Linked DNA regions of Homo sapiens. The protein of the gene in region 3 purifies or fractionates together with the protein of the main gene of each other region. This does not show direct contact. Each region holds a gene or a part of one and is shown on either strand. Other genes may lie near its edges. The genes, in order: PLXDC2, ASPSCR1, HACL1, PTPRF, NT5E, TMEM67 and MME.

The links.
Region 1: the proteins of HACL1 (region 3) and PLXDC2 purify together in Homo sapiens (affinity purification with mass spectrometry; 2 studies listed by BioGRID and IntAct, with this or other methods). This does not show direct contact.
Region 2: the proteins of HACL1 (region 3) and ASPSCR1 purify together in Homo sapiens (affinity purification with mass spectrometry; 2 studies listed by BioGRID and IntAct, with this or other methods). This does not show direct contact.
Region 4: the proteins of HACL1 (region 3) and PTPRF fractionate together in Homo sapiens (co-fractionation; one large-scale study listed by BioGRID). This does not show direct contact.
Region 5: the proteins of HACL1 (region 3) and NT5E fractionate together in Homo sapiens (co-fractionation; one large-scale study listed by BioGRID). This does not show direct contact.
Region 6: the proteins of HACL1 (region 3) and TMEM67 fractionate together in Homo sapiens (co-fractionation; one large-scale study listed by BioGRID). This does not show direct contact.
Region 7: the proteins of HACL1 (region 3) and MME fractionate together in Homo sapiens (co-fractionation; one large-scale study listed by BioGRID). This does not show direct contact.

Annotation. Positions count from the first base shown.
Region 1 is NC_000010.11:20,211,432-20,214,931, reverse strand, and holds part of PLXDC2 (plexin domain-containing protein 2 isoform 1 precursor), read right to left. Parts: intron 3,264-3,500; coding exon 3,203-3,263; intron 1-3,202. UniProt on the Homo sapiens protein: May play a role in tumor angiogenesis.
Region 2 is NC_000017.11:82,008,629-82,012,128, reverse strand, and holds part of ASPSCR1 (tether containing UBX domain for GLUT4), read right to left. Parts: intron 3,093-3,500; coding exon 2,938-3,092; intron 2,644-2,937; coding exon 2,562-2,643; intron 1,328-2,561; coding exon 1,261-1,327; intron 587-1,260; coding exon 524-586; intron 1-523. UniProt on the Homo sapiens protein: Tethering protein that sequesters GLUT4-containing vesicles in the cytoplasm in the absence of insulin. Modulates the amount of GLUT4 that is available at the cell surface. Enhances VCP methylation catalyzed by VCPKMT.
Region 3 is NC_000003.12:15,595,070-15,598,569, forward strand, and holds part of HACL1 (2-hydroxyacyl-CoA lyase 1), read right to left. Parts: intron 1,356-3,500; coding exon 1,315-1,355; intron 1-1,314. UniProt on the Homo sapiens protein: Peroxisomal 2-OH acyl-CoA lyase involved in the cleavage (C1 removal) reaction in the fatty acid alpha-oxydation in a thiamine pyrophosphate (TPP)-dependent manner.
Region 4 is NC_000001.11:43,603,883-43,607,382, forward strand, and holds part of PTPRF (receptor-type tyrosine-protein phosphatase F isoform 1 precursor), read left to right. Parts: coding exon 1-307; intron 308-1,020; coding exon 1,021-1,118; intron 1,119-1,307; coding exon 1,308-1,561; intron 1,562-1,646; coding exon 1,647-1,740; intron 1,741-2,357; coding exon 2,358-2,576; intron 2,577-2,931; coding exon 2,932-3,086; intron 3,087-3,500. UniProt on the Homo sapiens protein: Possible cell adhesion receptor. It possesses an intrinsic protein tyrosine phosphatase activity (PTPase) and dephosphorylates EPHA2 regulating its activity.
Region 5 is NC_000006.12:85,488,083-85,491,582, reverse strand, and holds part of NT5E (5'-nucleotidase isoform 1 preproprotein), read right to left. Parts: intron 2,090-3,500; coding exon 1,984-2,089; intron 1,076-1,983; coding exon 926-1,075; intron 1-925. UniProt on the Homo sapiens protein: Catalyzes the hydrolysis of nucleotide monophosphates, releasing inorganic phosphate and the corresponding nucleoside, with AMP being the preferred substrate. Shows a preference for ribonucleotide monophosphates over their equivalent deoxyribose forms.
Region 6 is NC_000008.11:93,792,894-93,796,393, reverse strand, and holds part of TMEM67 (meckelin isoform 1 precursor), read right to left. Parts: intron 3,197-3,500; coding exon 3,098-3,196; intron 986-3,097; coding exon 887-985; intron 494-886; coding exon 407-493; intron 1-406. UniProt on the Homo sapiens protein: Required for ciliary structure and function. Part of the tectonic-like complex which is required for tissue-specific ciliogenesis and may regulate ciliary membrane composition.
Region 7 is NC_000003.12:155,083,319-155,086,818, reverse strand, and holds part of MME (neprilysin), read right to left. Parts: exon of another isoform or gene 2,777-3,500; intron 2,662-2,776; 5' UTR 2,652-2,661; coding exon 2,492-2,651; intron 1,761-2,491; coding exon 1,725-1,760; intron 1-1,724. UniProt on the Homo sapiens protein: Thermolysin-like specificity, but is almost confined on acting on polypeptides of up to 30 amino acids. Biologically important in the destruction of opioid peptides such as Met- and Leu-enkephalins by cleavage of a Gly-Phe bond.

The DNA.
Region 1 (3,500 bases), on a different chromosome or scaffold from region 3:
GTGTCTGCATGTGAATGTCACACACATCTCAAACTCAAGGAGTATAGAATGGAACTTGCCATATATTATTCTCTCTTTGTGTTTCTACTGTCAATGAACAGGACCTAGTATTCCGTAAACAGGATCTAATAATGTTCAGTAAACACCCTACGTTTAAGGTAAAATCCTAGGCTCAGATTGCTTTTGGCAGTAACGGCAGACTAAGGAACTAAATAGCCCTCCTATAACAAAACAAGTAGATTCTGAATAAAACTTGAATTTTAAAGCCTTAGGATTTGCAGGAGGTAAAGAATATCCCAATGGTGCCTTTCCATTGTTTATTCCCCTCCCCACTCAAAAAATAAAACAAAGCAAAAGCTATGTGCTATAAAGACAGTAGGAGCTGTATACATTAAGGGAAGTTAAAAAAGCAGAATTTGCCCTGAGGAAAAAAATCCAAAATCAATATCGCTCTAAAGAGAACAAGCCTTGCAGCAGTAGTAGACAGGGGAGAAAAATCTGAACTTCTCCTCCTCACATTAGGGCAGAGACTTATGGTAGCCTGAAAATCCTGAGGATCCCATCATCAAATCTTCTTTGGGGGAAAACATCACCTATTTAGGTCTTAGAATAGGATCAGACAAATATACACTAAAAAAGAAAAAAAAATAGCTGTCTGAGAAAGAATCAGCAAAAACAATGACCACACTATTTAGATCACCAAAATTTTAGATAATGGGATCATCCAATATGGAATATACAAAAATCATACACGGAATATTTAAAATCATAAAAGATAAAATTGAGAAATGAACGGTTCACATGAAACTATAAAATACTTGGCAGATGTAATAAGTGTCAAATTTAATTTTAGATATGAAAAATGTTTGTTGGAATTTCTACTTCAGTGAGTAGATTACATAGAATATTAAACAAGATGAAGGGAGAGTTAATAAACCGGTAAATACATCTGAAGAAATTGCTCCAAATACAGCACAGAGTAATAAGGAAAGAGATTACATATAATAGAGGTTTAAAAATATGAGGAAAAGATGAAAATGGCAAGCTTTCAAAGAAGTCAGAAGGTGAAAATAAAGAGAGTGGAGAAGTATAGCTGAAGAGTACATTTATCAAGCTTGACACCCAACCAACAGGAAAACACACATTTTTCTTGAACACACATAGACCCTTTGTACAAAATGCCCATGTACTTGTTCATGAAAAATTTCCAATCAACTTTAAAGATCATAACATGTTCTCTGATGATGACTCAATTAGTCTAGAAGTCAATAGTAAAAAAGGTAAATTTTAAAAGCCTCTGTAATTAGGAAATGTGATCTAATTCATAATTTAATGTATTTCCAATAAAATGTTAGTAAGATGTATTGATAGATGGATTACAGATCTCGACAAGGTGAGTTTAATATTTATATGAAGGACAAAAGCCCTAAAATACCCAAACACTTGTGAAGAAGAAAAAGTAAGGAGATTTGTCCTGTATATAGTAAGATTTCTTATAAAACAATAGAAATTAATACAGTGGGACACTGATCTAAGTACTGACAGAGCTTTAGAAGAGGAGAGCCCAGAAAATATACATAAAACAGGTGACTTTGCAAGATATTGCCAAAAGAAAGGATTAGTTAACAAATGGTGCTTGAAATTTGGCTATCCATCAAGAAAAAAAACCCCACGAAACTGAATCTCTACCTTATATAATACATAAAAACCAATTCCAAATGGAATAGATTTTGACGTGTAAGACAAAGCTTTAAAATATTCAGAAAAAAATACACAAAAATAACACCTAGATGGAATTTGGTAGGAAAATTCTTCTAAAAGAAGATGCACAGGCATATAAAACTCATCATAAAAATAAAAGATTCATACATTTGACAGATTAAATTGATAATTAATGTTAGTGAAATAAAATCATAGAGAAAATGAAAAGATAAACCAAATTTGGGAGAAAAAATATACATCTGAATTACATTCTCAATCTTTACATATATGGAGATATTCATTTTCAACATTTTATATTGAGGTAACTGATTATATGAAAGAAATGATTGTCTCAAAACACAACTATGGCTTTGTCAATAGATACTCTTTGGAACTACGTTATTAGATAAGTGAGGTGAGACGGATGAGCACACACTGCTGTCATTCCCTAAATGAAATGCCAAAAGGTTGGTTATAGCTACACTGGCAATACTGCATTTAAAGTTCAAGAATGTTTTTAAAAATGTATTGCTCAAGATCTTTATGAAACATGCCCCCCAAAAATGAATTTTTAAAAAGTCTCTAAGTAACCATTGAACAAATAGTTTTTAAAACAGCATTTTGGCATGGCTTGCTTTGCTAAACTTTTGTAATTGTTAGCAGTTTTAATTCAAAATTGATACCCCAAAACTTAATGAAGGGAGAAGAAGTAAATGCTTTTCTTCATAAACTTTATAGGATATCTTTATATGATCTTGAAATGATAGTATAAATGCGAGTCACTGCAAAGCTTTTAAACGGGTTAAAATTGTTTCTGGTATCCAATTGCTTACACGACTTCACTGCATCCTTGTCTCTATCATGTTTCCCTCAGAGTTAACATTATACCATCTCTCTATGCCAACTAATGTTATACAATTTCTCATTTATTACAGCACATCAATTTGCTGCAGTCTTCCACCCTCCACAATACCACTGGTCTTGCTGTTTGAATTACAAAGAGGAACAATGGTTTCGTACATCCTAGAAAAATAGCAAGCATTTAAGAGAACTCCTCTACAGATTCCAATCCTGGCCCTACTATTCCCTAGCCATTTACCTGACTCTCCAAGAACCCACACTTCACCCCTCCCCACAAGCTCCCCTCACTCCTCCCCTTTCTCTCCTTGGTAATATGGGGGTAGTGACAGTGCAGGCACTGTTCTTCATAGAATGAATATGACAATGAAATGAGATAATACATATAAATAGTTAAGCCCCATGTCTGCATCTATTAGGGGTTGTAGCAAGTTGCTACAATGTAATGAAAATGTTATCTAATTTAACAAAAATAGCCAGCTGTTATCGAACCCCTAATATTTGCAGACATTGGGCTTATAGAAGGATTCTTCTCCTTTCATTAAGTTTTAGGGCATAAATTTTGAATAAAAATTATTAACAGTTAAAACACATGTATATGACAGCTTGGTCCCAGGATTCTGTCACAATAAAGCATGTGTACCTCTTCAGGGCATCCACTGTCCACCCAGTCCTGCCGATGACGATCAAATCCACTGGAACATCTTCAAAGAAGACCACAATGCAGTTCAGAAAAGGAAGGATAGGGTGCAGGGTGGTGGACAGAAATTAAAAGTAAAAGATTAGTAGGTAGTTCATTCTCACATTTTCAGTTTAGCATAACATTAACTCTTCTATAGAACTCGCAACTGGAGAAGCAGGGAAATATTTAGAGGGTTGCTAAATAATCACTCATTCCTTAGGATGTCACTGTTAGGATCGCACATGGCAACCAAATCACT
Region 2 (3,500 bases), on a different chromosome or scaffold from region 3:
GGGCAGAAGAGCCCCTCACGAGCACGCCCTGTGCCCACACTCCTGCTGCAGAAACTCCAGCTGAGGGCTCGGAAGGGCCGGTGGGGGGCAGGCCCACCTGCAGGGGACACCACCCGTGCAGCCCGGCTCCCCTTGCAGTGGGCAGCCTAACCCTTTGCCACCTAGACACCCTCCAAGGGAGGCCAGCCACTCCCTGTCCACCCACCCTTCCCACAGCCCTCGGGCAGGAGTGGCCTGAGCCCCAGGGGTGGGGACCAGGCTGGGGTGCAGCAGGGCTCCAGAGGGGAGCAGGGCGCTGAGAGAGAAGGCAGGAAGCCTGGCTCCCACCGCCTGGCTCGGGGAGAAGGGCCCTCCTAGGTCTCCACACAGACACCATGGGCTGCAGGAGGCACCTGGGCGGGAGGCCACAGATGCTGCTCCTGTGGAGAAGCTGCCACGAGCCCCAGCTGGGACGGGCGGTGTGCCCACAGCACCAAGGCCCCGAGCACTGGAGGCAGGAGTGGGCTCAGGAGAAAAAACGTACACAGGTAAAATGACAGCTCGGGGTTCCCCAGGTGGCTCCTCACGAAGTCTCGCAAGTCCCCCACTGCAGAGGAGAAAAAGAACATACAGACAGCTCTTCCACCACGCCAGCCCCGGGCTGCCCCAGCACCTGGGCCACTGCTCCCACCCTCCTGGGCCTTTCCCCGAGGGGTGGGAATTCAGCCCTGTTCCTCCCACAGCACTCCAGGTGCTCGGCGTGGCTGGGCCACCGTGCGGGCCACACTTGGGACCCCCGCCCTGCTGGAGAGCACTCCCACTGCCACCCGCTGCCCCCCAGCCCCACCCCCGCCCCAGCCTAAGCGCTTCCCTTTCCCTGGGGGAGGCCCCTGTGACCTTGGGCTGCTGCCGCCCGGCCGTCTGGGTACAGGTCACAAGCCCCTGAATGTCACAGCACCACTGCCCTCCTCCCGGGGTAGGGTGCCTTCCTCTGGGTGCCCCTCTGCCCCACCCATGCCCAGTAGGTGGGCGACGTGAGCACTCAGGACCACGGGCTCCCTGAGCTGGGGCCGGGCACCTGGAGCAAGCGCCCAGCCTGCCTGACACTCTGCGAACTGGGATGCCTCTGCACCCCCAAGGGGACATCAGCACCCGCACCCACCCAGTGCCCTGGAGCCCGCAGGCCAGGTGGCTGCAGTCCTGTGGCCTGGAAGGAAGGAGCCGGGAGAGGCCCCATGGGCCCCTGCCCCCCATCCCCGGACACCCCACAGCGCTGCCCACCTGTCTCGCTGGGGCGGAAGAAGCCCTGTAGGACGTAGCGGTCGGGGAACAGGACCCTCAGAGCCACCTAGGCCAGACAAGTGGAAGGGTTGGAGGGACGGCCGGAGCTGCACCAGGGACCAGGGCGTGGCCTCCCCACTCGGCCCATGCTGGGCCATGGACACCAGGGCTGAGGCAGGCAGAAGCAGCCACCCCCAATCAGGGCCTGGGCTTTGACTCCCCCGTGGCAGGCTGGGCATGGAGACAGCCAAGTGCCGTGTGTGTGCACAGCGGCCTGCGTTCTAAAACCACACTGACCTGGGTTCAAATGTGCTGGTTTTTTTTTTTTTTTTTTTTTTTTGAGATGGAGTCTCACTCTGTCGCCCAGGCTGGAGTGCAGTGGCATGATCTCGGCTCACTGTAAGCTCCACCTCCCGGGTTCACGCCTTTCTCCTGCCTCAGCCTCCCGAGCAGCTGGGACTACAGGCGTGCGCCACCTCTCCTGACTAATTTTTTGTATTTTTAGTAGAGATGGGGTTTCACCGTGTCAGCCAGGATGGTCTCGATCTCCTGACCTCATGATCCGCCCACCTTGGCCTCCCAAAGTGCTGGGATTACAGGCGTGAGCCACCACGCCCGGCTCAAATGTGCTGTTTAAAGTTTCATTCAGCCAGGTGTGGTGGCTCAAGCCTGTAATCCCAGAACTTTGGGAGGCCGAGGCGGGCAGATCACCTGAGGTCAGGAGTTCGAGACCAGCCGGGCCAACATGGTAAAACTCCATCTCTAGTAAAAAAAAAAAAAACAACAAAAATTAGCCGAGCTAGTGGTAGCGGGTACCTGAAATCCCAGCTACTTGGGAGGCTGAGGCAGGAGAACCACTTGAACCCGGGAGGCGGAGCTTGCAGTGAGCTGAGATGGCACCACTGACTCCAGCCTGGGCGACAGAGAGAGACTCCGTCTCAAAAAAAAAAAAAGGTTTCATTCTAAATCATGAGCAGGGGAGGATCAACTGGCCACTAAGGGCATGCGCGCCACCACGGGGGGGCCCTGCTCAGAGCTGTGCCTCAGTCGCCCCCACGTCCCATCCACAGACCTCACAGGGGGCCCCCTCAGAGCTGTACCTCAGTCGCCCCCACGTCCCATCCACAGACCTCACAGGGGGCCCGCTCAGAGCTGTGCCTCAGTCGCCACCACGTCCTGTCCACAGACCTCACAGGGGGCCCGCTCAGAGCTGTGCCTCAGTCGCCCCATCCCGTCCACAGACCTCACGGGGGGCCCCCTCAGAGCTGTGCCTCAGTCGCCCCCACATCCTGTCTGCAGACCTTTGGGTAGCGCTCCAGCTTCTCCTTTATCTGCGCCTCCCTGAAGGCCTTGGTCACCAAGGGGGCTTCTTCCAGGCGCTTCCTGTGGTGAGGAGGGGAAGGAACAGGGCTTCTGGTCAGAATGGGGGCCCTGGCAACAGGCCCCGGGCTCCTCACCTGCACCCTCCAGGGTGGGAGTGGGCTGCTCTCCCCACACAAGGCAGGAAGGTCTGGACGCCCCTCCCTGGGCCCCAACCCTCTGAGGTCCTGTTAAGGGCAGCCTGTCAGGGACCTGGGCCGGGAGCCAGTGCTGGCACTGGGGACAGCGGGCAGCACAAGCACCCGATGGGGCAAACCCTGGCGCGAAGATGCCGGGAGGCACTGAGGGGGCACCCACCGCTCACTCTTGAGCTGGGCCAAGCGTCTTCTCACGTCGTCCACCGTCAGCTCAAAGAACTCATCAGGCAGCTCCGCTGGCCAGGCCTGCAGCCGCTCCTCCAGGTCGGGGTGGCACACCACCGGCTCCCGGTCCACGGGCTCCCGGTCCACGGGCTGGAGGCAGAGGGCGCGGCTGACGGCGGGTGTCACGGGCTGGGCCCTCCGCACCCCGGGCTGTCAGTGCCCCAGCCGAGGTGGTCACACAGACTTGGGAGCTGGGCCCACTCCCTCCCTGGCCCCGGCCAGCGCAGGGCCAAGGCCAGGTCCTGGGGGCAGGGCTGGGCACAGCAGCTGGGGGACCCCACCCCACTCAGAGCCTGTCCAGGGCTGGAGACCCCCCTCTCCCAGTCAGTGCACCAGACCTGATGCTGAGCCCCTGCTCCCCAGCAGGGCACATGGCCCCTGGAGTCTGGCTCAGGCCACGTCAGGGTCTCCATGGGGGGGAGGGGTGGCGACAGCCGCCAAATTAGAGCGTCGGCAAAAACCCCAGTCCAGCTGCCCCCGCTGCCCTCTTGGCCACAG
Region 3 (3,500 bases):
TGAGCCGAGATTGCACCACTGCACTGTCCAGCCCAGATAACAGTGCAAGACTCCATCTCAAAAAAAAAAAAGTATGAACTTTTAACCATTCTCTTAATCATTGTTCTAGCATTTTTTACATTAAGGCATTAATTAATAACTATAATTTAAATGCTTTCCAAGCTAAATGAAAAGATTAAAATATTTGTCATATGTAAATAAAGCGGCAGAAAACAGTGACAATAGTGTTACTTGATGGCCTATTTTTTTCAGGTTCAAATTCACAAGTTCCTTATCACAGAAAAAAAACTATTCTGGTGAGGTCTAGACTTTGAGAATCTTATTAGTTTGCATTTCTTAGCAACTGAATTACTAGTTTCATTTTTGGAAATAAAAAAATGTATTAAAACTAACATATGTGAAAAAAGTATGATACACATTCCTGTGAGAGTCCAAATTCTGCTTAAAAAATACATAGATAAGGGAAAAAACTGGAAGAAAATGACCAATTCTTAACAGTTCTGAGATCATAGGTGATTTTCTTCATCTTTTTTCCTTTTTTTTTTTTTTTTTTTTTTTGAGACGGAGTCTCACTCTATCACCCAGGCTGGAGTGCAGTGGCGCAATCTCAGCTCACTGCAACCTCCGCCTCCTGGGTTCAAGCCGATTCTCCTGCCTCAGCCTCCCGAGTAGCTGGGATTACAGACGCATGCCACCACACCAGGGTGATTTTTGTATTTTTAGTAGAGATGGTGTTTCACCATGTTGGCCAAGCTGGTCTCAAACTCCTGACCTCAGGTGATCCACCTGCCTCAGCCTCCCAAAGTGCTGGGATTACAGGCGTGACCCACCGTGCCTAGTCGATTTTCATTTTCTTCTTTGTGCTTTCTATATTTTCCAAGTTTTCCAAAATGGACATTTTAAAAATGTATTAATTTTTAATAATAAAAAGGGGGTGGTAGTTAGGTAACATGGATACACACTAAAAAATCAGAACGTGTGGAACAGCTCTCAACAGTCACATTTTGAACCAAGCATTTTTGTATTAAGTGTGCTGGGGTAGTTGTGAGATCCAAGACAAGGTATCATACATCAACTCACTATCTGATCACCAGTGATTCACTCTACAAAATGGCAATGTGTTCCACTCTGAAACACTTCTGGTATCATTATTCTTTTGATGTGGTCCTCAGAGAGTTTTAAATGTTTTTTATCCTTTGTTATTTAATATATTTTTCTATAATCTTTCCAAATGAACTCATCCTTCAGCTGAAAGACGTAATAGTTCTACCCCAAAATATTAAAGTAATTGAAGTGAAACAAATTTTAGTTTACCTGCTTGTCAGATATCCAATCGCGGAGGCAGCATAACAAGCCTACGAGAAAACAACACTGGGACTTGAGCATATTGGGATCCTTATAGTACATTTATGACAGCAACTTACTATTAAATAATAGACAAGAACATAGTGGTAAAGGCAGAATTAAAATATTTCCAACCTTAGTAATAAATGTTCTACACATAAATTTCAAATAATGGTTATCTAAATTTTAGTTTTTCAGGAAATTTGTTCATATGTATGTTATTCAAAACATCCTCTTACAATTGCTTAAATATCTGCAGGATCAATAGGAATGTCCTCTTTTATTAACAATATTGGTAATTTGTTTTCTTTCTTTTATTCTTCATCAGTCTCATGAGGGGTTTATCAAATTTATCCATCTTTTCAAAGAACAAATTTTTTTAGTTCTTCGAAAATTTTTGTTGGTTTTTCTCTATTGTTTGTTTTCTATTTCATTGATTTCTGTTCTTGTATTTATTATTTCAGTCATTTTGAATTTGATTTGCTTTTCTTTTTCTAGCTTCTTAAAATACAAATTTAGAACACTGGTTTTTAATTTTCTTTACTAATAATTTGTTTAAAATGATTCCAAGAACTGCTTTAGTTATAGGTTACAAGTTTGAGTTGCATCTTTTCATTATCATTCTATTCAAAATATTTTCTACTTTCCATTGTGATTTCTTCTTCAACCCATTGGTTAATTAGGATCTGTAGTGATACCTCCTTTTTCATTCCTGACATTGGTAATCTGTTTTCTCTTTTATTCTCAATCAGTCTATCTTGAAGTTTATTCATTTTGTTAATCTTTTCAAATATTTACAAAATACCAAAAAGTATGTTGCTTAATTTCCAAAGGTCTGAGATTCTTTTTAGTGATCTCTTATTGAGTTCCACTTTACTTCCACATGGTCAGGTGACATATACTGCACGCTTTCAATCCTTGGCGATTTATTGAGATTTCCTTTATGGCCTGCATATGGATAGTTTTTACCTTGTAACTCTACTTCAGCTCATAATCAGGAAGAGAGGGGGCACTAAATTAAATGCACACAAGATAACCTGGGAAAATGCTGAGTGCTCTCTCAAATTCTTCTTAGTCTGGGACATCATTTTTTTCCCAGTATTATTTCTTCTCATTTCTTTAGAAATAATAATGAATTGCGTATTTCCTAGCCTTCATTCAGCTTTAAATGAAGTAGTATACTGTCTTAAAGAACTCCACATTAACGACATAAATGTGGAAAAAAAAAAAAAGGAAATGTTTATGGATCATAATCTTAACTGGCTCTACTATCATACACCCACTGAGAACCTGCACAAAGACTCTGCTCTTTTCCTGTGTCGCTATTCTCTACTGGCCCCATCTCTCTTTCCTTTTGCACATAAGGCCAAATTCACATTAGGAGAATAAGACAACTCCTAAGAAATGCAGGCATGTAAATACCTGCTGCAATAAGAACACTTTATTTAGACACCCAAAAGAATTGCCCACTTATGATAGCTAGGTAAGAAATGTTGCTAGGCAATGCAAAATATACAACAACACGTAACAAAAAGTATATTCCTCTGGTAGGAAATGTCAAAAGTTGAGAGGTAACTGTTTTGTTTTGTTTTATTTTGTTTTGTTTTGTTTTTTTTTTTTGAGACAGAGTTTCGGAGTTTCGCTCTTGTTGCCCAGGCTGGAGTGCAATGATGCAATATTGGCTCACGGCAACCTCCACCTCCCAGGTTCAAGCAATTCTCCTGCCTCAGCTTCCCGAGCAGCTGGCATTACAAACATGCACCACCACGCCTGGCTAATTTTATATTTTTAGAAACGGGGTTTCTCCATGTTGGTCAGGCTGGTCTCAAACTCCTGACCTCAGGTGATCTGCCTGCCTCAGCCTCCCAAAGTGCTGGGATTACAGGCGTGAGCCACCGCGCCTGGCCATAACTGGTTTTATGACCATAAAAGATCTGTTCCTCTACTAAACTACCTCCATTCACAGGCAGAACAGTGTACATGGTACTTAGAGAGTGGACTCTCGAGCCAATCTGTTTTGATTTAAATCCCAGCTTCCCCACTTTCTACTGTGTAATTTTGGCAAGTTGCTCTAAATCTCTGTTTCTTCATCTATAAAATGAAAATAATTCAAAGCACTGCTGTGAGGATGAAATCAGTTCGTATGTGTAAAACAC
Region 4 (3,500 bases), on a different chromosome or scaffold from region 3:
CCCGAGGACCTGCCCAGCGGCTTCCCCCAAAACCTGCATGTGACAGGACTGACCACGTCTACCACAGAACTGGCCTGGGACCCGCCAGTGCTGGCGGAGAGGAACGGGCGCATCATCAGCTACACCGTGGTGTTCCGAGACATCAACAGCCAACAGGAGCTGCAGAACATCACGACAGACACCCGCTTTACCCTTACTGGCCTCAAGCCAGACACCACTTACGACATCAAGGTCCGCGCATGGACCAGCAAAGGCTCTGGCCCACTCAGCCCCAGCATCCAGTCCCGGACCATGCCGGTGGAGCAAGGTGTGTGCTGTGGACATGGCATCCCTTCCCGAGTGTGGCTGCATCTGGGGGTCTCTGCTCTCCTTGAGCCACTGACCTCTGGCGACTGTGATCCACCAGCCTCTGGTGTGTGACCTCCAATCTCTCATGACTGTGACCACTAACCTCTAGTGAATGGGCACCACATTCTTGATGCCTGACCTCTGCTGTCCTTAACCTACTGACCTCTGCTGTATGACCTTCTGATCTCTTGTGACCTTGACCCACTGATCTCTTTTGACTGTGTCACTATTCTTGGGTGTGCAACCTCCTGATCTTTGGTGTGTGACACTAATCTCTTGGGGCCATGACCCACCGACCTCTAGTGAACATGCTCCACCACGCTCTGGTGTGTGGCCACATGCTTCTCATGACCGAAACCCACTGACCCTCTGATCACTCTGGCCTGGTGTCCATCGGCTCAAGCTTTTACACTCGCGTTTCTGGAGATTCTGACCCTGGTTGCTGTGGCATCCCCCGCCCTGTTTGGTGCTCACTGTGGAAGAGCTTGGGCTGGGAGTTCAACTGTGCCGTTTGAAGCTGGCTGGGAGTGGGGCGCTTGGTACTCTGCAGCCATCCTTCAACCCCCTGTTCCCCAACCAGTGTCTCATCCTGGCCATTCACCTTCCACCCTTCCAGCCCATTCACCCCACCTCATATACCCAGCAGAGCTGACTCTCTCTATGCCTTTGCAGTGTTTGCCAAGAACTTCCGGGTGGCGGCTGCAATGAAGACGTCTGTGCTGCTCAGCTGGGAGGTTCCCGACTCCTATAAGTCAGCTGTGCCCTTTAAGGTGAGTAAGGGCCACGGCCAGCTGAGCCTGGCACACACACAGGCCTGCTGGGTGCTGTCTTTCCAGTCCTAACCCATGTGCATCCGGCTGTGGAGCAGGAATGTGGTTGTGTATCCGTGCACTGTGCCTTGCAGCCCGTGGTAGGGAACCTCACCCAAAGGCATTGATTGCCCCTCCCGTCCCCCACAGATTCTGTACAATGGGCAGAGTGTGGAGGTGGACGGGCACTCGATGCGGAAGCTGATCGCAGACCTGCAGCCCAACACAGAGTACTCGTTTGTGCTGATGAACCGTGGCAGCAGCGCAGGGGGCCTGCAGCACCTGGTGTCCATCCGCACAGCCCCCGACCTCCTGCCTCACAAGCCGCTGCCTGCCTCTGCCTACATAGAGGACGGCCGCTTCGATCTCTCCATGCCCCATGTGCAAGACCCCTCGCTTGTCAGGTGTGCACACGAGGTATCGGGGGAGGCGGGGCAGGGCTGGAGGTAACCAGCAGTGACAGTCCTGATTCCTGCCCTGCCCACCCAGGTGGTTCTACATTGTTGTGGTGCCCATTGACCGTGTGGGCGGGAGCATGCTGACGCCAAGGTGGAGCACACCCGAGGAACTGGAGCTGGACGAGGTACCTGGGGAGGGGATGGGGACACTGACAGCCCCATTGCAGTGGTCAGCTGTGGCCTTCCTGCCCTGAGCACTGTCCCAGTGACTCTCAGATTCACTCCCCAAATTGAAATCTCTCTTCTGGCTGGCAGCCCGCCCCTCTCTGGAGAGAGGGACTCTGAGGAAACCATCTGGGAGTATTCACAGAACTCCCGGAGGGCTTACGAAGAATCCCTGGGGTGGGATGTCGTGGAGATGCCTCTGCAGGTCTAGAGAATGCCAAGCCCTGTAGACACTGCAGAGCCTCGCAGATCTAGAAGCTATGGAGGGCTTAGTGAGCCTTATAGCCAGGAGTCCCTGAATGTTTGAAATCCTTCAGTCCTTTCTCATAGCCAGTGTGGCAACAGCCTGGTTAGGGTGGGGCAGCTTACACACAGGGCTGCTTCTCATGGGCTGGTGGGGAGGAGTGGCTTCACGGTGTCTGTTACTCTGTAGGGGCAGTGGGTTGGGCAGGTGTGGGCTCTGACACGGAAGGTGAGCCTTGATCTCGGCCCAGGGAGCTGACATCCCAGGCCACAGCCTCAGGGCTGGCCGGCATGCTCCAAGGCCCCTCATGACCCCCATGCTCTGCTCTGCCAGCTTCTAGAAGCCATCGAGCAAGGCGGAGAGGAGCAGCGGCGGCGGCGGCGGCAGGCAGAACGTCTGAAGCCATATGTGGCTGCTCAACTGGATGTGCTCCCGGAGACCTTTACCTTGGGGGACAAGAAGAACTACCGGGGCTTCTACAACCGGCCCCTGTCTCCGGACTTGAGCTACCAGTGCTTTGTGCTTGCCTCCTTGAAGGAACCCATGGACCAGGTCTGCCTGAGCCGGCTTGGCTGTCAGCACCCTGATTCCCTGGGCCTGGCCTGAGACGATGCCAGTCTCAAACACCACAAGACCCCAGGTCTTTATCAGTTTGGGGGCTTCGAGATCCTGGGGCAGCACTAAAGACCCAAGATCTGTCCCGGGGATCCTAAGACGCGGCCCTGGGACCCAGAGGCCAGACCTAATGTGGCTCCAGGGACCCAGTCCTGCCAGGTCCACCTTGTAGGGTCTGGGAGACCAGGCCCAGGGTAACCCAGACCCAGAGCCCTTTCTCCAGGATTAATAGGCAGAGGGTGGGGGGTTCTCACGCTGAGCTCACAGCCTGCTGTTCTCCACCGGGCCACAGAAGCGCTATGCCTCCAGCCCCTACTCGGATGAGATCGTGGTCCAGGTGACACCAGCCCAGCAGCAGGAGGAGCCGGAGATGCTGTGGGTGACGGGTCCCGTGCTGGCAGTCATCCTCATCATCCTCATTGTCATCGCCATCCTCTTGTTCAAAAGGTGAGCACTGCCCTCAGAGCTCCGGGAACGGCCACCTGCCCCTCGCCTTTCAGGCCCTCTCCGGGTGTGGTGCCTGTGGAGAGCGTGCAGCCTTGCATCCTGGACCCTGAGCCTCAGGCTCAGCAGGAAGGCAGGAAGGGCAGGAGCAGTGTGTGTGCCTACCTGTGTCTGCAGGCCTGCATCTGTCAGGTGAGGGAGCCTCTGCAGCAGCCTGGGCGTGAGGAACTAAAGCCTCAGAGGGTTGTCTCATGTGCATCCCTGGCACGTCTGTCTGTCTCTGTGTTTCTGTGGATAAGAGTGCGTCTGTCTCCTCTTCAGTTTTAAGACACCGCCATCTCCTGAGCTCCTACCTCGAGTCCTTTCCTTCTGCCACCATTCCTGGATGATTCCCCAGCCCTACTCTCCTGCTTAGGC
Region 5 (3,500 bases), on a different chromosome or scaffold from region 3:
GATTTGGTGACTTCCACAAGGCATAGAGCTATGCAGTGCTTTGCTAGAGCATCAGAAAACTGCTTTTCCCTCAACTCCCTTCTGGGAAAATGGAGGATGTTTGGGTTGCCCCATAGGCATTAGGACAGGGCCCCACTGCCTTCTGTAGCCCTTCAGTCTCAACAGCAATGTGTTCTGCAGAGGAAAACTCAGGAAAGCAATTCTATCTGTCAAGCGGGACCACAACCTAAGGTTAAAAAAATGAGGCCAGATTATGATTTCCAGGTAAAATAAGATTGCTTTTAAAGGATTAATTCACTGGACTGTGGAATTATTAACAAAAGTGTTTCAGAAGCCCTTGGCAATTTAGGAAGCATTTATTTCCATTCAACTTTCACTGCAGTCCATGAGATAAACAGGAAAGGTTTTCTCCCTGTGCCCAGAGGGGTTGAGAACTTGCCCCAGGTCACAGTGGGACTAGAACCAGGTGTTCAGGTATGTCTGTGCAGTAGGCTGCTCCTTCCAGGAATCATCCTGGTTAATACAGATTGGACAGCATTCCTTTAAATCTTGGCATGGTTCCAGGCAACGATGAGTAGAACAGAGGAGAGGATTTAAAAAAAAAATAATTGAATGCTTAAATAAGATTTTATTAGAAACTAGACCTCAAAGCAGGTGACCTGCTTAGAGGGCCCATCTGATGTCCAAATCAGACTTGGCAAATACTGCTTATTGCCAGGGCTTTGGGGCTTTGGGGCTTTGACCCCAACCTAATCTTAGTGGCTCTGAGAGTCCACAGCCATTAAAGGGTAAGGTATTGGTGTTGGGTCGGGAAAAATCCAAACCAGTTTGACCACAGGAATTTTGGTGAAGGGGAAGCTGAGCCAACCAGCAGGAAATGCCATGTCACTTTGGATGGGCCAGCCCTACAGGATGGGTGACTTACCGCCCACCTGCAGGAACTCTCCAGTGGACTGGCCGTAGCGGTGCACGCTATGCTCAAAGGCCTTCTTCAGGGTGGAACCTTTTAACTGGACTAGGTCAAATGTGCCTCCAAAGGGCAATACAGCAGCCAGGTTCTCCCAGGTAATTGTGCCTGAGGGTAGTCACAGATGAGGCAAGAAGGAAAATAGCTTGAGAAAATGCTTACACCATGACCAGTTTCCCTCAGCGCTGGGGGAAGAAATGAGGGGGACATGGGAAGCTTATAGAGCATCATTAGCTATGTCTAAGTGGTTCCTGACACTGAGGAAGGGAATGAGTTTAGGAGGCCTCTGGCCCTGCACTCCACCACTGGGCAAGATGGCGGGAGCTCACAAATGGCTGTGCCTCAGAAGTTCACCATGCTCAGTCTTAGATCTGCTAGCTTGGGGCTGGATCTCCAGTAGTTTGTTTTGCATTGTTCCGTTCCTCCAGACAAACAATGTGCCCCTGCAACCTGTCCCTGTTGTCTGACAATGGGATGCGTTTGGGGCCTTATACTGATACTGATTGGTTTTCACAGTAAATCAGGGAGGGCTACAAGAGTGTCTTGAGTATTTGTGTAGTTGATTTGTTTTGCCATATGATATAATCTTGGATATCTGTAAATATACTAAGGTAACATTTTAATCCAGTGGTATGTCTTTTTCAGGACAGAAGATTGGTGATTTTGTCTCTTTTCAGATGCCAAGGTGGTGACTGTTGTTATTTTGCATAAATCAGAAACAACTAGTATAGCTTTGTAAGTCAGAAATTCAGACCAAGTTTGAGTTCCACTAACCTTACCTGCAGCTTCTGTGTGTGAATACATATAAGAACACACAAGCTTGTGTGTGTCCTTCAGGCTAGGTTTTAGACTTTAATAATGGCTAACCCTAATTTAAAGGACTGACATTCTGGTACATGGCTGGCAGCAGAGATGAACTGAGGCTGCACATGGGTGTGTTCAGGGCAAGAACCATAACAGAAAAGGAGATCAGAGAGAGAACATGACACACTGAGGAGCTGGGCCTGGGAGCATACCATTGTTGCGTTCATCAATGGGCGACCGGATACCACCTCCATTTAAAATGCACATGGATACGTGGTTCCAGAACATTTCATCCGTGTGTCTCAGGTTGTTGTTAATCTGCAACAGTAGCACAGATTTACACTAGTTACTCTGGCTCTTCTTCCTTAGGATCAGCTCCAGGAATCTGGTTAGCTCTAGTGAGGAAATAAAGCTGCTTTTCACCTGCTGCTGTGTTCCCAGGGATCTCTCAACTATAATTAGAACTAATTTTATGCTCCCAGAAGTAAAAATATACTGTTACCAGTCCATGTCAAACTCTTATTTCCCCCTCCTAAAACTCCCATACTGTCAGGCCAGGTGGCCTTAGCAAAATGGTCTCTCGGTTGTAGCCCTGGTGTCGGGACTGGGCCTCCCATGCAAGGTGGCCTGCAGAGTCACTCCTGCACAGGCTTCTCCAGGGCAGGCCATGCCCTCTGCCTGATTCTGAGGGCTTGGCCCTAGAGCCTGCTCAACACCAGACCTCATGCCAAAGAGAACCTGGCCTCCACGTCTATGTCTGCAGCTGATTCCCAAGTTGGCAATTTTGGAAAGACAGAGACAGCCTTTTGAAGCTGGGGAGAATCACATCCATTCTTACTTTTATTTTACAAAATATATGTTTAGTTATAAGAAATAAAATGAATATATTCTCATTTAGGAGACAAAAAGCCGAAAAAAAAAAAAAAAAAAGGCCAGGCATAGTGGCTCACACCTGTAAATCCCAGCACTTTGGGAGGCTGTGGCAGGTGGATCACCTAAGGTCAGGAGTTCGAGACCAGTCTAGCCAACATGGTGAAACCCCGTCTCTACTAAAGATACAAAAATTAGCTGGGTGTGGTAGTGGACACCTCTAATCCCAGCTACTTGGGAGGCTGAAGCAGGAGAATCGCTTGAACCCAAGGGACGGAGGTTGCAGTGAGCTGAGATCATGCCACTGCACTCCAGCCTGGGCGACAGAGCAAGACTCAGTCTCAATAAATAAATAAATTAATTAATTAAATAAATAAATAAATAAAAAGCAAAAGCTCTCCTTTGTCCTAGCCTCTTTAACAGAGTGGATAAGCACTGCCAACAGCCTGGGTTGTTTCCCTCCAGACTTCTCTTAACATTTATATACCAGCTTCTCCTTAACTACTTCTCTGGCATTGACTGCATGATGCTGAGGAGACATCATGAGTCTGGTCTTGGCATGAGCATGATTGTTGTCATTTACACGGCAAACATTTATCGAGTGCAGTTGTATCCTGGGCACTGGGCAATGCATGCCAAGCACTGACAGAAATGACTTCCCTGGGTGCAGGCTGTGAGCCCATGGAAGTAGTAGTCCGACATAGGAGACCTTGGCTCAGTAAGGCCCCCAGAGAGCTACCATGGCCATTCCGCCTGGTGACAAGTAGACGGGCTTGTTCTTCATACCTGGTCTTGCTCAGCCATAGGACTTGTTATTACCATTAAAACTGTGTGTTGTCTTTCTGTGCCTGTGAAAGAG
Region 6 (3,500 bases), on a different chromosome or scaffold from region 3:
GAGCAAAGGAATCTGGAGACAGACAAAACAACTTTTAAGATCTCAACACTTTATCCAGAGTGGTACCTTTTACCCTTGATTAATGGAGACAAAATTCATGCCTGAAGACATTTTGTCCCATTGTGAATGTATCATCAGACTTTAAAGAAAGTTATATACTGAAATATCATTTTATCAAATAAGCCATACAAATTCATGGCTTCTTTGAAAAAAATATTTAAGGCAGAGTTTCAGACTGAGCATCTACTATAAATAAAAGTAAATTTACCACATAAAATAATTAATGCTTTCTTTCAAAACCAAAGTGAATTTCACGCCAAAGATTTTTGAAAGCATTTTAATTTTAAAGACTTGTTAGTTCATTAGCAGGCCTTTTAAATTTGGTAACCTGTCCTTTAAAACTTACCTTCAGAGCAAAGGCACATCCAACATAAGTGACAAAACGTTCTTCCTGAATTGGCATTGGCAGCAAAACAGACACAGACTTCTGTGCCTATAATAAAAATTACTTGATTAAATATTATCACACACAGTTTTTTTTGTTTGTTTGTTTGTTTTTTGTTTTCGTTTTTGTTTTTTTTTGGGAAAGGAGGGTCTCAGTATGCTGCCCGGGCAGGACTTGATTCTGGACTCACAGGATCCTCCCACCTAAGTCTTCCAATTGAACAAGGTTTTTACTAAGCACAATTTATAAACCAAAGAAAGCATAAAAGAGGAAGATAGTGATGTAATCGATAAGCTCAGCACACTCAAGGAATGGGGAGTTGGGAACTTTTCTTAATACTGTTGATCAAAAATTCTCTCAAATAAAAATAGTTCCTTTATAAAGAAAGCTTTTCAACTATTCAGATATTGGCAGTTGGGGAAAATTCAGAAACTCACTCACTTTGAAGAAAATAAGCCAGTAAAGACCTGTTCCCACTGTGATGATAAAGAAAACATTGGCCAGATCACCAGCATAGTACACCAAGAATTTCACAACTGTCTGCAATTTAAAAAAAAGAATTACAGCTGTTTAAGACTCCATGTATATACCACTTTTAGTAACACTACCACTTTTATACATCATCCACTCCATTTCTTAAGCCTGAAGCCTTGTTTCACATATCCCCATATGATCCAGCTATAAAGACCACCTGCTTCCTCCTCCTTGCTACCTTTTGGCTCCTTACCTTTCTGGCCGTTCCTGGTAGCCTCTTCTTTCAACTCTTCTCATCTTTCACTATCTAAGAAAATTGAACTGCTTCCTAATTTTCTCTTAGTTGGGAATCCTCCCCTCTAATCTCTCCTCCACACTACCACCAGAGTTAGTTTTCTAAGATGTAAATTGGATTGTGTCACTCCCCTTGTTAAAAATGAACAACTCCTCATTGCAATATAAATTCCTGATCCACAAGGTCTTTCACAATATGGGCCAAAATTAACTTTTTAGCCTCATCTGCCAGTTCCAGCCATGTAGTCAATGACTAACCACTCCATACGTTCATCTCAAATACTTTCTGGAATAAAATGGGCATTGTTTTACCAAATATTCTTCTCTTCCCCTCTCTGGTAAGTTCTCATGATTTCTGAGAGCACAGACTATGTCTGTCTTTGCTCACTAACACATTCTCCAGCTCCTGGTAGAGTGCCAGACACTTAGACAATAGAGCCTCAGTGACTATTATAGAATGAACAGATAATCCCACTTAAAGTTCATTTCTCTGGGAAGCCTTTCTGGACTATCCCAAGTAGTAAATCAAGTACCCCTGCTGATTCCTTAGCCCACTGGCTTTGGAATCAGAAAGATACTTTGGTTAAAGCTACCATGTAACCTTTCTCATGTTCTTCATCAACAAAACGGAAATACCTATTACTGAGTTGCAAAAATCAAGTGAGTAGAAAATTTAACCTTTACCTCAATTTCATCACGTGTAAAACGCAAATAATAATAATAACCTAACTTCAAAGAGCTACTGTGCGGATTCAGAAAATTACATACATAAAGCTTTAAAAAGTGCCTGGTACATGGTAAATATTTTTTAAATGTTTAATAAAAATAAAAGGTTAACCATGAAGTGAAAGTATAAAGTTAATAGAATAAAATGTGGACTATCTTTGTGATCTTGATATAGGGACGGTTTTCCTAAACAAGATCCCAAAAGCACGTATCATAACATGAAAAAAAATATTCAGATATGATGATATCAAAACCAAAAGTTTCTGGCCAGGCGTGGTGGCTCATGCCTGTAATCCCAGCACTTTGGGAGGCTGAGGTGGGCGGATCATGAGGCCAGGAGTTCAAGACCAGCCTGAACAACATGGTGAAACCCCGTCTCTACTAAAAATACAAAAATTAGCCAGGCATGGTGGTGTGCGCCTGTAATTCCAGCTACTCAGGAGGCTGAGGCAGGAGAATTGCTTGAACCCGGGAGGCAGAGGTTGCAAGTGAACCAAGATTGTGCCTCTGCACTCCAGCCTCAGCGACAGAGTGAGACTCCGTCTCAAAAAAACAACAACAAAAAAAAACAAAAATGAAAACAAAAACAAACCTGAAAGTTTCTGTTAAACAAAGGACTACATGGATAAAAATAACGGATGGGTCACATATTTATTTGGTCATATATTTCAACATCAGAAACCAAAAAGGGGTTACTATTTAGAAAATACAAAAAAAAATTCTTCAAATAAACAATAAAAACTGGAAACATAATAGAGAAATGGGCAAGGGATATAAACAGGCAGTTCACAGAAGGAGAAACCCAAACGATTAAAATGTATATGAAGAGTACAGAGAAATGAAAATGAAATCAACAATGACATACTACTATATGCCATGAGGTTGGCAAAAAATGAAAAGGTTGGAAAAATATCAAGTGTTGCCAAGTATGTGCAGAAATAAGAAGAGCATTGCTGGTGGGAATATAGACTGGCATACAGTATGGTGGGAAGAAAATGAGGTACACATATACCATATGACCCAGCAATACTTACCCTAATTACATATCCCAGAAAAATTCAATGCAACTTTTTTACTTATTCTCTAGCTGTGTCTTATGAGAAGGATCCAGAATGGTCAAAAGATAAAAATATTCTTAAAAAACTCCTGAGATTATACCTGTAAATCAATCATGGGACTCCCAATGCGCCTCTTCCATCCTGCTGTCTTCAAAAGAGATGCTAAAACAGCTAGCCCACCCAATACACCCAAAGCAATCTAAAAAACAAAAGAACAATTGAGAATTTATGTAATTTCTGTCATCGGTGTTCAAAAACACTGTGAACAAGTAAGGAAGTGCTCAAAAAAATGGTGGGGTGGGAAATGTTGAAAGGACACAGGAGTCAGCCGGGCACAGTGGCTCACACCTGTAATCCCAGCACTTTGGGAGGCCGAGGCAGGCGGATCATGAGGTCAGGAGATCAAGACCATCCTGGCTAACACGGTGAAACCCGTCTCTACTAAAAATACAAAAAATTAGCTGGGCATGGTGGTGGGTGCCTGTAGTCCCAGCTACTGGGGA
Region 7 (3,500 bases), about 140 Mb from region 3:
AAATAAATAAATAAAATTAAAAATATCCAGCAGAAAATGGTTAAAATTATTTGGAACAGTTTATTTATTTCTTATAAGACACATAGATGTTAGAAAGGAGGTTTAGAATCTCTTGTTAAAGGACACAAATATTGTGTTCATATCCCAGGTGCTGCCCTCAGCTACCACCTTCCTTTTTCTTGAAGAAAGAAGAAATACTCCCATTTTCACCACACTCCAATTGATGGGATTTATATAGCTTCATACACTTCTCTGTTTTCTGCTCTGACTTATTTTTCTTCTCTTCTAATCATTGATGTTGTTTAGCCCTTGAACCTCTTCTTAAGTTTAGCCCTTGAACCTCTTCTCTTCTTTTGAGAACTCAAATACTTCCAAGGCTTCCACTATCACTCCTAAACTGACAGATCTCAAATCCAAATTCCAGCTTCTTAAACCTCATCTCTACCTTCCTCCTGTCTATTTTCATCTTAGACCAAACACATCCACATCCACCTCATAACCTCTCTATTTCTGTGTGGGCTGCCTCCATTCTCTTTAGTCCCTTGGGTTTTAAAACTTGGCATCATTCTCAATTCATTCATTTTATTTAGCAAGTCAGTTCTACTGAGTCACCCAATTCTCCCTCCCCATTATCTCAATAGTACTCTTCTCTCACCACAGGCCAACCTCTTCAGCTTACACTTGGAGTACAGAAGCAGCCCCCACCTGCCTGCCCTCCTTTTCACTCAATCCAGTCAACCTCACATTCGCAGAATCATCTTTCACCTTTGGCCTGATCACTCCTCTGTTCAAAAATATCTGTTTCTCCTGTATTACAATATCAAGGCTAAACATGGATTTCAAGGTTCTCCATAATGTGTCCTTCTATCAAGCGTACACTTTTACTACTTCTCAATAACATAGTTTCTTTCTTTTGTGTTTGGAATTCCCTCTTCTGCACCGCCACATCTAAATTCTAGCCCTGCTTCAAGGTTCTTCCCAAATTTAAGGCTGGGTGCGGTGGCTCACGCCTGTAATCCCAGCACTTTGTGAGGCCGAGGGGGGCAGATCACCTGAGGGCAGGAGTTCGAAACCAGCCTGATCAATATGGTGAAACCCCGTCTCTACCAAAAATACAGAATTAGCCAGGCGTGGTGGTGGGTACCTGTAGTCCCAGCTACTTGGGAGGCTGAGGCAGGAGAATTGCTAGAACCCGGGAGGCGGAGATTGCAGTCAGCCGAGATCACGCCACTGCACTCCAGCTTGGGCGACAGAGCGAGACTCTGTCTCAAAATATAAAAAATAAAAAAAATAAATAAAATGAAATTTCTTCCCAGATTTTAACTTCTCCACCTAGATTTACATGCCTACATCTCACTCCCTTCTTCTCACCCACCTAGTGAGGTGCACTGAGACATTTAACACAATGATACGAAACTTACCATTTCATATGTGTTCATTTTCTTTCTTCAACTACATGGCAAGCTCCATACAAATAGCGATATAGTTTTCTATTGCCCTGCTATACAGCCCAGGGCTGAAAATAGTAATATATTTTTCAGAGTAAACAAGTTAATTAATCTACTACTTAAATATATTTTTATTTCCATTGATTATAGAGCCAGACACATAAATAATTGATCTACAATGAATAAAAGTGTAAACAAAGCAAATTAAGATTAGCATTTAATTTTAAATATTATACATCAGTTGTATAACTATTACACGTAAAAACCATTTCTTACCTGATTTTATGCAGTCTGATGACTTGCAAATACCATCTAGAAAAAGGAGAGAATATACATAAATATTGGCAACACAAATTTTTAAATTTCTATTTTTCTTTTGTTCTTTTAAAAACTGCCAATTAAATAAGCAATTTCTTAAAGCAAGAACTAAAAACTGAACATTATATATCATTGTCAGTGGTTAGAAAAAATATAAGAAAATAAAATAAGTAAAATCTAAATTTAAAATTTTGATTATGAAGAAAAATGTGTTATTATATCTTCTCTACCAACGAAGCCCCAGGCCTATTAAATTGAAATAATCAGTTGTTTTTGCTTGGTAATCATTTTTTTAACCATTAAACAATCAATCTTTTTTCATCCTTGTTGTAAAAAACTTCCAAGACTCAAATTAAATTTGTTAAATTCCTGTGAAGCCGTTTAGAATTTCAATGACACAACAAAAGTTGACTAATGACTATTACTAAAGCTGGCCATAAAATTGTGTATATTTTAATCAAATAAAACCATACTTTAGATTCCTCATAAGTAAGCGTGAGCGCACTAAATATACTTGCAATTAATAACTTAGCTCAAACATAAAAGGCACCGTACTTCAAAGTTAATTATTTTGACATATTGATGTTACATTTTATAAATGAATCTCTTTGTCAGTCTTTAAGTGCCTCTATCCTTAACACATTCGTTGGATAGATGGTAAAAGCATGGAGGAAGATTTCCTTCTCTTTTGCACTTATGGATGCACAGGTGTGGGAGTAACTCACCATCGTAGGTTGCATAGAGTGCGATCATTGTCACAGCTATGATGGTGAGGAGCAGGACAAGGACCGAGAGGCTGATCTCCAGTGGAGTCCATCGCTGTTTCTTCTTTGGCTTTGGAGTGTTGATATCAGTTATATCCATCTGACTTTCTGACTTGCCCATCACCTAAAATCTGCAAAAAATGAAAATACTAATAATGAAAAACAAATAAATAAAAAAGAAAATGTCCAAATGCTTAATGTGGCTGGATAAAAGTAAAAGGCTCAGTTATTTTAAAATAGAAATACATTTTTGCTGTTGAGAAGTCAAAATTTTGTTGCTGAATGCAAAGTATATAGAGCCAAATGAATTTGACAGGTCTCAGTCACAACCTTTTGTTTTTTGTTGCTGTTGTTTTGTTTTGTTTTGCTTTGGTATATCACTGAAAATCTCAGCAAAATTAGACAGTAAGACTTGGTTAAATACTCAAGTAGGATTAATTCAGCAGTTTATAAGCAAATAATTGCTGTACCATCATTAAGAAAGTTTTAAACTCACCCTTTTGAACTCTGGACTAACATCAATGGTTAATTTTATATCTTGCTCCAGTGGCTTCCTTTATAAGCTCAAAAACCAGTGACTAATACCTTGAGGTTTTGACTAAGCAATAATTTGAAATATTAATATAGATAAACAGCAAAACGAATGAACACATGAAGTAGTTTATTTTAGTCATAAAAACAACCTTTATTTTTACAGTTCAAAATTACTACTACTACTGATACCAGTATCTATTAACTGGTTAGACAACATTCTGAAAATGGTCACTCACTGTACCAAAAGATACCTGAATATCCAACCTAACCACGCCCAATCCCATTTAAGAGGGGAGTAAGGGGGATAAGTAAACAAAATAGTACAAAAAGTTACCAAGTTGATACTTGTAGTCCTGTATAAAGCAGGGTATGCAAAAACATACCTGTATTCCTAAAATCTTTCACCTCAACTGGAGATGTGTTAAAAACTTTAAAC